Regions from separate parts of the Homo sapiens genome. Here region 1 is linked to region 2. The links come from fine-mapping of genetic effects on gene expression. Tissue or cell type: whole blood. Region 2 holds a variant in brackets; the other region holds the start of a gene. All regions are shown on one strand. Distances are from middle to middle.

What was found. PIP is the estimated chance that this variant, and not a neighbour inherited with it, causes the effect.
Region 1: LINC01934 starts here. The variant in region 2 is fine-mapped to the expression of LINC01934 in whole blood (INTERVAL, PIP above 0.99).

The regions. Positions count from the first base shown.
Region 1 is chr2:181,121,836-181,127,124 of GRCh38, forward strand. It overlaps LINC01934 (long intergenic non-protein coding RNA 1934), which reads left to right and starts at 2,002. Exons shown (of 5, transcript NR_130784.1): 1 at 2,002-2,145. RefSeq lists an enhancer at 2,269-2,368.
Region 2 is chr2:181,230,449-181,235,737 of GRCh38, forward strand. All of the region lies in intron 2 of LINC01934 (long intergenic non-protein coding RNA 1934), which reads left to right. Among named protein-coding and RNA genes, the nearest start is that of MIR4437, 73 kb to the right of the region's middle. The variant T/A (reference allele first, on the strand shown) is at 2,819.

The DNA of each region.
Region 1 (5,289 bases), 110 kb before region 2:
AGGGGGAGATGCTCTGCTTCTCTTATTGTGGTTGTCCATGGATCTCTTGCTTTTCCCCTTTTATTTGAGCATTTTGAATTGCCACCAATATTGGCAACTGCAACTGTGCCTCTTTGGTTTGTATGTCCAAGGCCAATGATATAATAGCTATATCCTTCGAACCTGCCCAGACATACCTAGAGAAAACATTTTCAGGTATCTCTAGGTAGGTGTGAGCTAGGAGGAAGGTTAGTTAGGAGCAGAGACCAAAAAGAGATATAATGAATGCAACTCTATGAATCACAAGGGAAAAAGTCTCTAATTGCAGAAGGAGCAGTAACAGTTTTAAGCTGGAGAGCCTGGGTTGGTGCCCAAAGCATTTCTTTGTTTGCCAAAAGCTGCCTCAATGTGGTATTTCCATCAACACCTATTTGTTGAGAGCCTACTCTGTGCCAGACACTATTATACAGGCTGTAATTTTCTATTGGCTCTAAGCCATTCTGATACATAAAAATATAGTTTCCTCAAAAGAGATTAGTATTTTATAATCTAGTTCAGCTTCATGTGTTAGCACTTAGTCTGAATATTTGCCATTGTGAAAATATGCAATATCTATGTATTTTTCAGACATGAGCCAAAGTATTGAAGTGCTTCATACTTAATTGTTCTTCAAAGTGTTCAATCTTTAACCAAAATATTTCTCAAGAAGTATTTCATGGATATACTTGTTATTTATTTTTGTTCTCTGAAAGAAATGCCTCCTGATGTTAAAAATCATTTTGCTAATATCTCAGTCTTATTCCTTTTTAGAGTCCTCTACACTCTATCAATATAGAACTAGCTACAGTTACCAGAAAGTGCTATATTGTTTTGTGCCTCTGGATCTTTGAATATGCTAGACTCCCAGCTGGGAATGCACTTCCTTGCATGAAAAATGACCACACAATATTCTTTACCACAGTTCAAGAATCAACTCCTTTGATCAGCTCTTTTACGCTAATTAGAATGCCCGTTTCCCCACTTGAGGCCCAATGTATTCTATATAAATTCCTATTGTTGTAATTCTCACATAATATTCATAATTATTTGTCCAGTTTTCTTTTCCCATCTTGTGATTTCCCATAAAATCATAAGATTTTATGAACTTATTGAGGACAGAGATTATGTCTTATTTGTGGTTATATCCTCAGGGCACAAAAAAGAGAAACTCAATATATGTTCAGTAAATTCATTGAATGAATAAATGAATCAATGAACAAACAAGCAAATGCCATATGCATGCATATATTCAACTCCTAGGAACACATTTTACTGGTATTTTATATCTTATATTTATTTATAATATATAAATATTTTATATATTATATATAAATAAATACAAATATTTATTTATATATAATATATAATATAATATATTTATTTATATATAATATATAATTTATAATTATATAAATATATAATATATTTATATATAATATATAATTTTATTATATATTAATTATATATATAATAAATATATATAATATATAATTTTATTATATATTAATTATATATATAATAAATATATATAATATATAATAATATTATATACATTATATATAAATATAAATATTTATATAATATATAATATAATATATTTATTTATATATAAATATATAATATATAATTATATAAATATATAATATATTTATATATAACATATAATATAATATAATAAATATATAAATAAATATAAGATAATAAATATAAGATAAGACCCTTTTCTGAAGATACTTCTAAGAAGTATCAGCAATACATTCTATGGGATGCGTATAATGGTTCCTGGATAATATAAAGAAAGAAGGCTTTCCTTTCTCAAAAAGGCAGTCTGTTATAAAAGTCTTTGTAAGTTGAAAACATTTTTTTTGAAAAGCAGAACCCTGTAGTTAAAGAAAATTCAGCAGCCTAAATTCTTTACTACATGTGTGGGTATAGTGAAAACATTTAGCTATCTGATATTACACTATCGTTGACTTCTCAGTTTTAGTATTCAGAGAATGACCTGAACTTAGCTGTGTTAAGTTGCCTGCTCCACAGGAAACCACCTCTGTAACTGTTGCTTGCTGCTTTCTCTTTAGGCAACACCCAAAGCCACTGTCAGATGTCATGGAGATGAGACCTCACAAGGTAAGTGCAAAGAAAACAGGAACAAATACATTTTCAAACAGAACTTGGTGAAAACATTGGCCCAAGAATGATAGGAAGCACCGCCTTTTGGGGATCCCTATTTGGGCTGTGGAAGGGACATATAGCCCTGTTTTATATGGAATCATATATGGTGTGAGGGAAATGAGTCAGATCCTGGGTTCCCAAGTGGCCTATCTGAGACAGAAGCAGGTTATGTTGTCTAGACAAAAGGAAATGCTTTGTTTTTTGAGGGAATGTTATCAGAATTTTAAAAGCCAAATGATGGCTAGAGAATATAACTAAAATTTTATTGACACTTTGTTTTTTAGAAGGCTTTTTCCCTCTTTCTTTTTGTTTCATTCTAACAGTCTATCTTTTTGCCCAAGATGCAAATTGAAACTTAATTAAATCCATGATTCCAAAGAGATATAGGCCTTATTACACAGCAGGCATTCTCTGGCTTTTCTTCACATCTGGAGTTTTAAACTTTGGGGTATTAATATCATGTCTAAGATTTCTTGTAGTCTTGGTTTGCTAAATAGAGGATACATGGCTATTTTAAATGAGGGTTTCATAATCACCCAAAAATGCTACAAATTTCAACGTGAAATAGCTTTTTCCTACATTGTAAATATTAGATGATTAAGCATTCCTTATGCCTTTTGCATGAAAAGGCAACATAGACTTTATTAGATATCTGCGGTTCTCATTCTTTGAGTATTTGCCTCCCTATTGACCTTCAGGCCTTTTGTGCTTCTTTAAAGCCGTTTCCATCCCCCCTACTTCCTCCTTCACAGAATGTAAGATGTCAGTGGAAGAAGATGAAACCAGAGGTTTTAAGAAAAGATTGGACAATAATAACTAAAACAAGTTCCTTTAGCTTTTATTTTTACCCATTTTATGTATTTTTATTGATATAAATTGCTTTATTATGATTATAGTTGAAAGTCAACATTTTGGCATATTAAAAAGACCATTTCCTTCCAACCTAGAAAATTCTATCTCATGATGATACATGTTAGGCCTCTTAGCAACTTATTCTGTCCTATAGCTGTGTGTGGCCACTGCCAATTTGTAGTCCCCAGTTCTAGTCCTGTCAACTATTTCTCCAGAGGTAACTGGACCAGAGATTATACCAGAATTTTATTTTATTTTTCTCAGATGGAGATTTTTTTTCACTGTGAAACTGTCTGGTTTCCCACTGATGGGTCTAATATACAGAGCTTTCTGGGTTTGACAGATGTGATAAACTAACAAGAATATTTGCATTTGTGTAGCTTTTATATACAGATATTTCACTCTCCTAATACTTTTTCAAGTTATAGATAAATGTTTTTTAAAAGCAAACTGAAACGGCTGACAAACAGCTGCTGCATAGACTTTGGAACCTGGCTGCCTATGTTTGTAGACTGCTCATAGAAATGTGAGTTCTGATAGCCTTTTTGGAGATGAATCTAGCAATATATGTGGATATTTATTGTGGCATTTGCTGAAGTTCCTTCTATAGCCTACCAGGCACTGCATCACCTGGACCTTGGGCAAGATATATGTCTGGTCCCTTTTCCTGCCCTTCTGTCACTCTGCATTTACTGTAGTGGCATTCACAAGTGTTCCCAGTCTCGCTGAGTATCTCTCCCTCAGAACTCGGGTGCTTGCTGCTTGCTGTTCCTTCTGACTGGATTGCTCCTCTCTTAACAGGCCTCATGGCTTACTCCCTCAAGTCATTCAGGTTTCTGATCAAATACCTCCTCAGAGAGCTCTTCCCTGGCTACCCCATTTAAAGTAATAAGAAATTTCCTGTAACTTTGTATCCCCTTGTTTAGCTTCATAAAAATATAACATTATGTTACATATTAAATTAGTGCCTGTCCCCTCCACTAGAATGGATTCTTTAGGAAAGTGGGAACTTTGTTTTGTTCATTGCTCTATTCCTGGAGTTGAACAGGCGCATAGAGTGTATTAAGACTTGTTGCATGAATAATTTGTGGTAGCAAATGAACGAAAAGATAAAGCAAATAGAATATCCTTTGGTAAGAGAATGGTTAGATAAATTGTGGCATATCAATAATATGATGAAGTCATCAAGAAGAATAGAATTAGATCAATGTCATCCAGGGAGTTTCAAAGTTTATTATTAAGGAAGAAGTGGAGGTGCAGAAAAGTTTGTATAATAGGACCCTGAGCAGTGATCTACATATATATGTATCTATCCATCTATTTAATCTATCTATCATCACATAAGAATGATTCATATAGTAGGATATTCACCAGGTCATAAGCATTAGCTTTGTAGGGAAATTGTGCAGTGTGATTTTGTTGAACAGGGTATGGAAACGGAGACTAGAGGGCTCAAAGTTGGCTGAAATATGTAAAATGATTGCCAATTTGGGATACAGCTTCACTTGCTTTTGCTAAATACACTTCAGAGCAACTTCAGTCATATCTTTCTCCCCTTGCCACCCACACTGTGACTTAGTGTCAAACTCTGACCCATGGTTGCTGTCTTGGCCTCCCTTAATTACTCTCCTTCGGAATTCCGTGTTGGTGCTCAGTGCTTCCATGCTGAAGTACAAGTTCCAGGCAGTCAACTTGTCTTGTCTTTGACTACTACTTAGAACCTCTTTGCATTCCTTGAAAAAAGGCATTTGTCTCTTACTGATGTGTTTTGCTCGTGTTTCTCATGCAATGAGTCCTTGATGTTCTTACAGCTGTTGCTGATCACTTTTTGGGGGGTTTTGAGGAAAAACTATGAAATTGATTCTAGACAATTTAGGCTTTTGTGGTTCACTGGGGCCCATAAAACTACTGAGCTGGGGAAGTGTGATTGGGAGAATAATGATATTTATTCAACGATAATGTGCTTCACATACATAAAGAGAACTCTGCACAGCCCCCGATAGAAAGTTACGGAAACATTCTCAAGTTAGAAACAGTAAATGTTTTGAAAATAAAGTGGCACTGTCTTAGAAATGCAAGAAGGCAGAAGCAAAATATTAGATTTGATAATTAAGAATATAATTAATGATGAGAAACCCCATATTTTAGAGTAAGACTATATCCCATTTATCATGGCTTTCAGTCATTTGAAAATTTATGTTCGTTAGTTTGATTGTATTTTCCACCAGCTCTAAGGAGGAGCTGGAA
Region 2 (5,289 bases):
TGCTTTGTTGTCTGGAGTCTAGAAAGTTTTCTTGGGTTCCAAGTTTCCCTTTCCTTAAAAATGAGAATTTTCTTGAAATGGCTTAATTACCATGACCTCCTTAATAAAACAAAGTTGACAGTAATGGAGAGTAAAATGGTACTAAGAACAGGCATGATGTTAAAGGAGGCTACCTGAGGGTGGAAAAGTGACTGAGAATAGAGACTGATTCTGATAATTCTATATCATGTGTCAGTCAATGCTTTCTATTTAGAATATTGATACCATACATAGCATAGGGTTTGATTGTTGTTGAAGCATATTGAGGATAATCTCTTTATATTTGAAAACTGTCTTGGAAGTAATTTTGTAGAAATATTCTGATATGGAACTGATGTCATAGGTACATACATCAGACTGCCTAGAATAATAATATGGAATCAGCAACTAGGAACACTATAGACCCAGGAGGATAAGGTAGTTTATATAGGCTTCCATTTGGGGGATATATCATGAGCATGTTGTCAAAACCAGATGTGGTTCTGAATTACCTGATCAATTCAGTCTGAAGAAGAGTTAAGTAGGTACCTGCCTCTTACTACCTTCACACCCCAAGCCTCTACCCCAATTTGGGGGAACTCTATGTCTTGAGACTACCATAAAAATTATTATTTGGTATGTTTACATGTAAAGATTCTTGAGACTCAAAAATTCCTAAACTAGCAATAAAATAATTTTTATTCTTTGTCAAAAACTTTGAAGTATTGTTACAGCTCTGGTTCCTCAGACCTTTGGATGAAGAAGGTTTAAAAGGAATGAATATCTGGAATAGTAGGGTTGAAAGCAAGATAGGATGGAGAAAGATCTCACACTGTGAAGCAGACCTGGCAAAGCCTTGGCCAACCCAGTAGGTGTCTCTAGAGAGAATATTGCTGATGAGTCAGGATGGCTGGGCTTTTGTGCAGGCTGCCTCAGACAGGGTGAGACTGCAAACAAGGTGGCTCCCTGCACTAAAGCAGATCCCAAAGGAGTCCCATGTTAGAGGCTGCCTCCTGACAGCTCTCCCTGCAGCTGCACGGGGGGTGAGGGCAGCACATCTCCAGGTCTACCACACATCTTTTCATTTTCTTGATGACTTAGTCACCTACCTGATAGGTTTCCACATAGATGAATATTAACTTTTTGGGTTTCTTTATCATTTTATTATGTTTCCTTATTTCCCCAAAGTGTTAGTGCTTATAACTTCTACCACATAAGTCTTACATTAAGATTGGGGGCTTAGTTCCAATTATCTGACTCTACGTCTTTGACCAGCTGTTTAGCCCAGGGTACATGTATTAACCTCCCTAAACTTCAGCCTCCTCATTTGTGAGTTGTTGGATGATTAAATGAGGAATATATACAAATCCATTGGCTTAGCATCTAGTATATTGTACGTACCCAATAAGTGTTATTATTAAAGAGTCTGAGAAATTTTCTAAATGCACTGGTCAATATTAGAAGAAGAAACTAACTCCCAAATATATCTGCCTATTAGGCATCATGGCAGCAGAACAAAAACTATGTTAAAATAATTAAATAAATGCAAGGCAAGGGGTGAGAGAAAACACCATCTGGCAGCTCTCAGTGAGTCATTTAGGAGTGAGTTGGAAGATAATGAAGGCCATTGCATTCTGGTCATGGATGGGTCCTTCTGCTTGGCTGGTGTTATAGCCTTTCTCCGAATAAAAATAGCCCATGCATCCTTTACTGCAGCTCAGTAAACACAGATTATGTGAATAAAAATAAAAGAATGCACAACAAAATCTTTGGGGAGATTTGACACAGTTTATTTTGTTTCTTAGTGTACCCGTGAATTTCAGCACAATCAACAGTTTAATCTGAACAGCAAGGAATTTGTTTTTTGGCTGTTTGAAGTAAGTTTTATACTGTTTTTCTAGCAGAACTGACCATATGAAATACTCATCAGAGCCAGGAAAACAATCTTCAGATTTAAAGCTGTATGGTGGCTGGAGTGCAGTACTACACATAGAATCATAACAAAAACTCTGATTTGGGTTTAGCCACTTACTACCTGGGAGGACATTGAGTATTCCCTAAGCCTTAGTTTCTCTTTAACAAAATGATTATGGTAAATAAATCTTGTAATACTTAAATGAGATCAGATGAGAAAGGAGTATAATGTTCTTTTAAAAATGCTTTGTAAATATTAGTTTATTATGAGTAAAGGTAAAATGCTGCTTTTGAAGGACAGTTTCATCTTGTGATTTTAAGATTGAACTTAAAAAAAAAAAAGACTAAACTGACTACCAGTTCCTAGCCAGGCAAAGTTACCTAAATTGGGGGAATTTATTTGGGGAAATAAATTTTGGTGCCTTGGCTTTCTTATCTGTATAACTGAGATGACAGTAATATATGACCTCACAGAGTTTTTGCTGAGATGCAGTGAGATGGTCTGGATCCAACACTTGAGTACAGTTCCTGCCACGGAATGATGATTTGGCTGCTATTGTTATATTTTAATACAAGGGTAAATAGGAGTCTTTCTTTTGTGTTTTGCACTGTTGGCGATTCTGGAATGGTTTACTAATATTTTTACTTTAATCCTGGAGTTATACAGTGATACCTTCTAACACACAGCTGGCACTTTGGAGAGATTACAATGACAAAAAATAAAAGATGGGGACAGACCCTTGAAAAGGGAATGGAAGAATAGTTCTAGGTTTTATTTTGTCTTGTTTTAAAAGATATTTCTATTGCTAAATTAACTTTATTTTTAAAAGCATGGATTAAAGAAGTATTAGTAAACGATAAAAGAAAATGCACAGGTGTGAGGGTT[T/A]TGAGCCTGAGCTCATAGTCTCCCCCCTGTCAAACATAACTGTCTATGGACATTGAATAAATCATTTAATATCATTGGCTCCAAAAGAGATGGATAAACAAGATTTGTGCTTCTCAAGCTTGACCACATATTAGAATAACCAGGAGTACTTTTGCAAAACAGTATATCTGGCTCCACCGGGTCCACCTCAGAGCAATTGAATTATAATTTCTCTGGTGAAGAACCAGTCTGCAAGCTCATCAGTTGTTTAGGGTACACAGTGAGGGTTATGGACCACCTGACTGGGTGATCATTAGGGTCTCTTCCAGCTCTGAAATCTTGTATATCTGTACATATCTTTTTACTACAGTCACATACATAAAAAGTACTTCTTAAAATGAAAACATATGTGGCATATTTAGAGAAGGTAAAGGAATTTGATTTAAGCTATTGGCTTCTGGAAATAAGCAAGTGATTTTCTTGAAGCTTATTGTAAACTATCAACCTCTCTTGCCTTAAGCGAGATGTAATGATTATACTTCAACCTACAGGCTGTATATTTGACTCAGCTATCCCCTTTTCAGTTTATCTCTGTTTTTTATGTGAAGAGTTCTGCCATTTTAGTAGCATGGATCTAATGGAGGCAAAATTCTTAATGCGATATTTAAAAACCATAAATAAGGCCTCACTTATGGACTACAGGAAGTGAGAAAATATTTCCAGAGAGGGATTTTCTCACCCACTGATCTTAGCATAAAGCATCAGCCTGAAAAAATGTTTTTTTAAATAGAAATATTCAATGATAAACACCAATAATTTCCATTTATATCATTAAAACGATGGAAGGAACATATGGCTACGATTAGAAGAATGAACGTTAGTTATGAGGCTGCATTTGCAAGAGACATTAATTAGAACTGAGAGTACCTCAAGTACTTGACTCAGGAAACAAATTGGTTTAATAAGCTGCATGGTCTGCAGATGCCCTTCCCTCTTCTTTTTCCGTGATTCCAAATAAAGCAGTTTTATCTGTGCAGAGCTAAGTACACTTGAGGAGTCACATGATTTTGTGCTTCACTTCATTTATGTTTGGAAGCAAGTTGACATGACCCTCATATGGGTAAGGTATCTCTTACAGCAATATACATCCAGGTGAGGGCATAGTCATGTTAAATCAGGATCAGATTTTAAACTTTCTATTCAGAGACTTGCCCTTAAAGAGAACTCCATTCATTTGAATACTACAATTGAGTTGCTGATGTGCTGTCTCAACTCCTGGAGACGCTCTGCTCTGGGGTGTACTTGAGTGGAGGACACTCCACATGCCCTGTCTTGTGCTTGTATCAGCTCCTGCTGCTTCCTTTGATCAGCAGTTGATAAAATCTCCCCTGAGGTTTGTGTAGCTGATGAAAGCCATGTATCTGGGATAAGCCTTTGGAATTTGATTTTTGGCATTATCATAATGTTAATATCCATTAGTACATTTTACAACATAAGCACAAGGCCTTAGATGCAGGGAATTCTCTGGTGAATACCAACTGGGGCAGCTGACATGTGGGTTATGTGGAACCCTCAAAAGCATATACTGTATCACTTTCTTAAGCTAAGAGAGCTGTAATGACTCTCTTGGGACAAATAAACATTTTGTGTGGAATCTCCACTTGCTTAATTGCTAGCCTTGAGTTTTAGAGTCCTTGCTACCCTAAGTAAACTTATTTTAATAAAAGTAAACATTTTCAGCTGTTTTTGGCTCTTGGTGAGGAGGCAAAGGTCAAATGGGAATTGAGGAAGAGCTTGATCACTCAGTAAGGCAACATTTGAAGAGTGAAATAGAAAGGTGGGATATGTAGAGAAGAAGACCAGGGTAAAAGCAAGGTTCTGGAGACAGGCTTCCTGGCTTTTAGCTTACTGCTTGCTTGCTGTAAATCTCAAGGAAGCTACTAAACTCTCTGTGCCTCAGTTTCCTCATCTATAAAATGGGTTTAATGACCAAATGAGTTAATACTTGTGATTAGCATAGTGCCTGCACATCAGAAGCAGTCAATAAGTGTTACTGTTCATAAGCAGAGCCCTGTGCTCGTAGTACCTTTACTATCAAGTGGCTATCTTTCTTTAGAACCAGGTCAATTTTATGAGCCTAATTTAAGATTCTTTTACTTTCCTGAGGCTGGTGCCAAATGGTTTTGTGATGCTAGAGGAGTGTGAACCTCAAATACCAAACCGTCCTTGCTTATAAAGTGTAGAATAATTTAATGCCGCTTATAGGTATGTTGGAGAAAAAAATAAGGACACCCTTGTAAATATTTTCAGCTCCACTGGGTGCAGCAGAATCAGAAGGTGGTATGTATAATAATTCAGCTTATCAGTCAAAACTTCAAAAAAAAATTAACTCCATGACGTGGGACATTTTCTAGTAGATAAATCTTTTACTGTTTAGATCTCCGAATCACAATAAGAAATGCTATTGAAGTATAACTGATTCCCAGATTGTG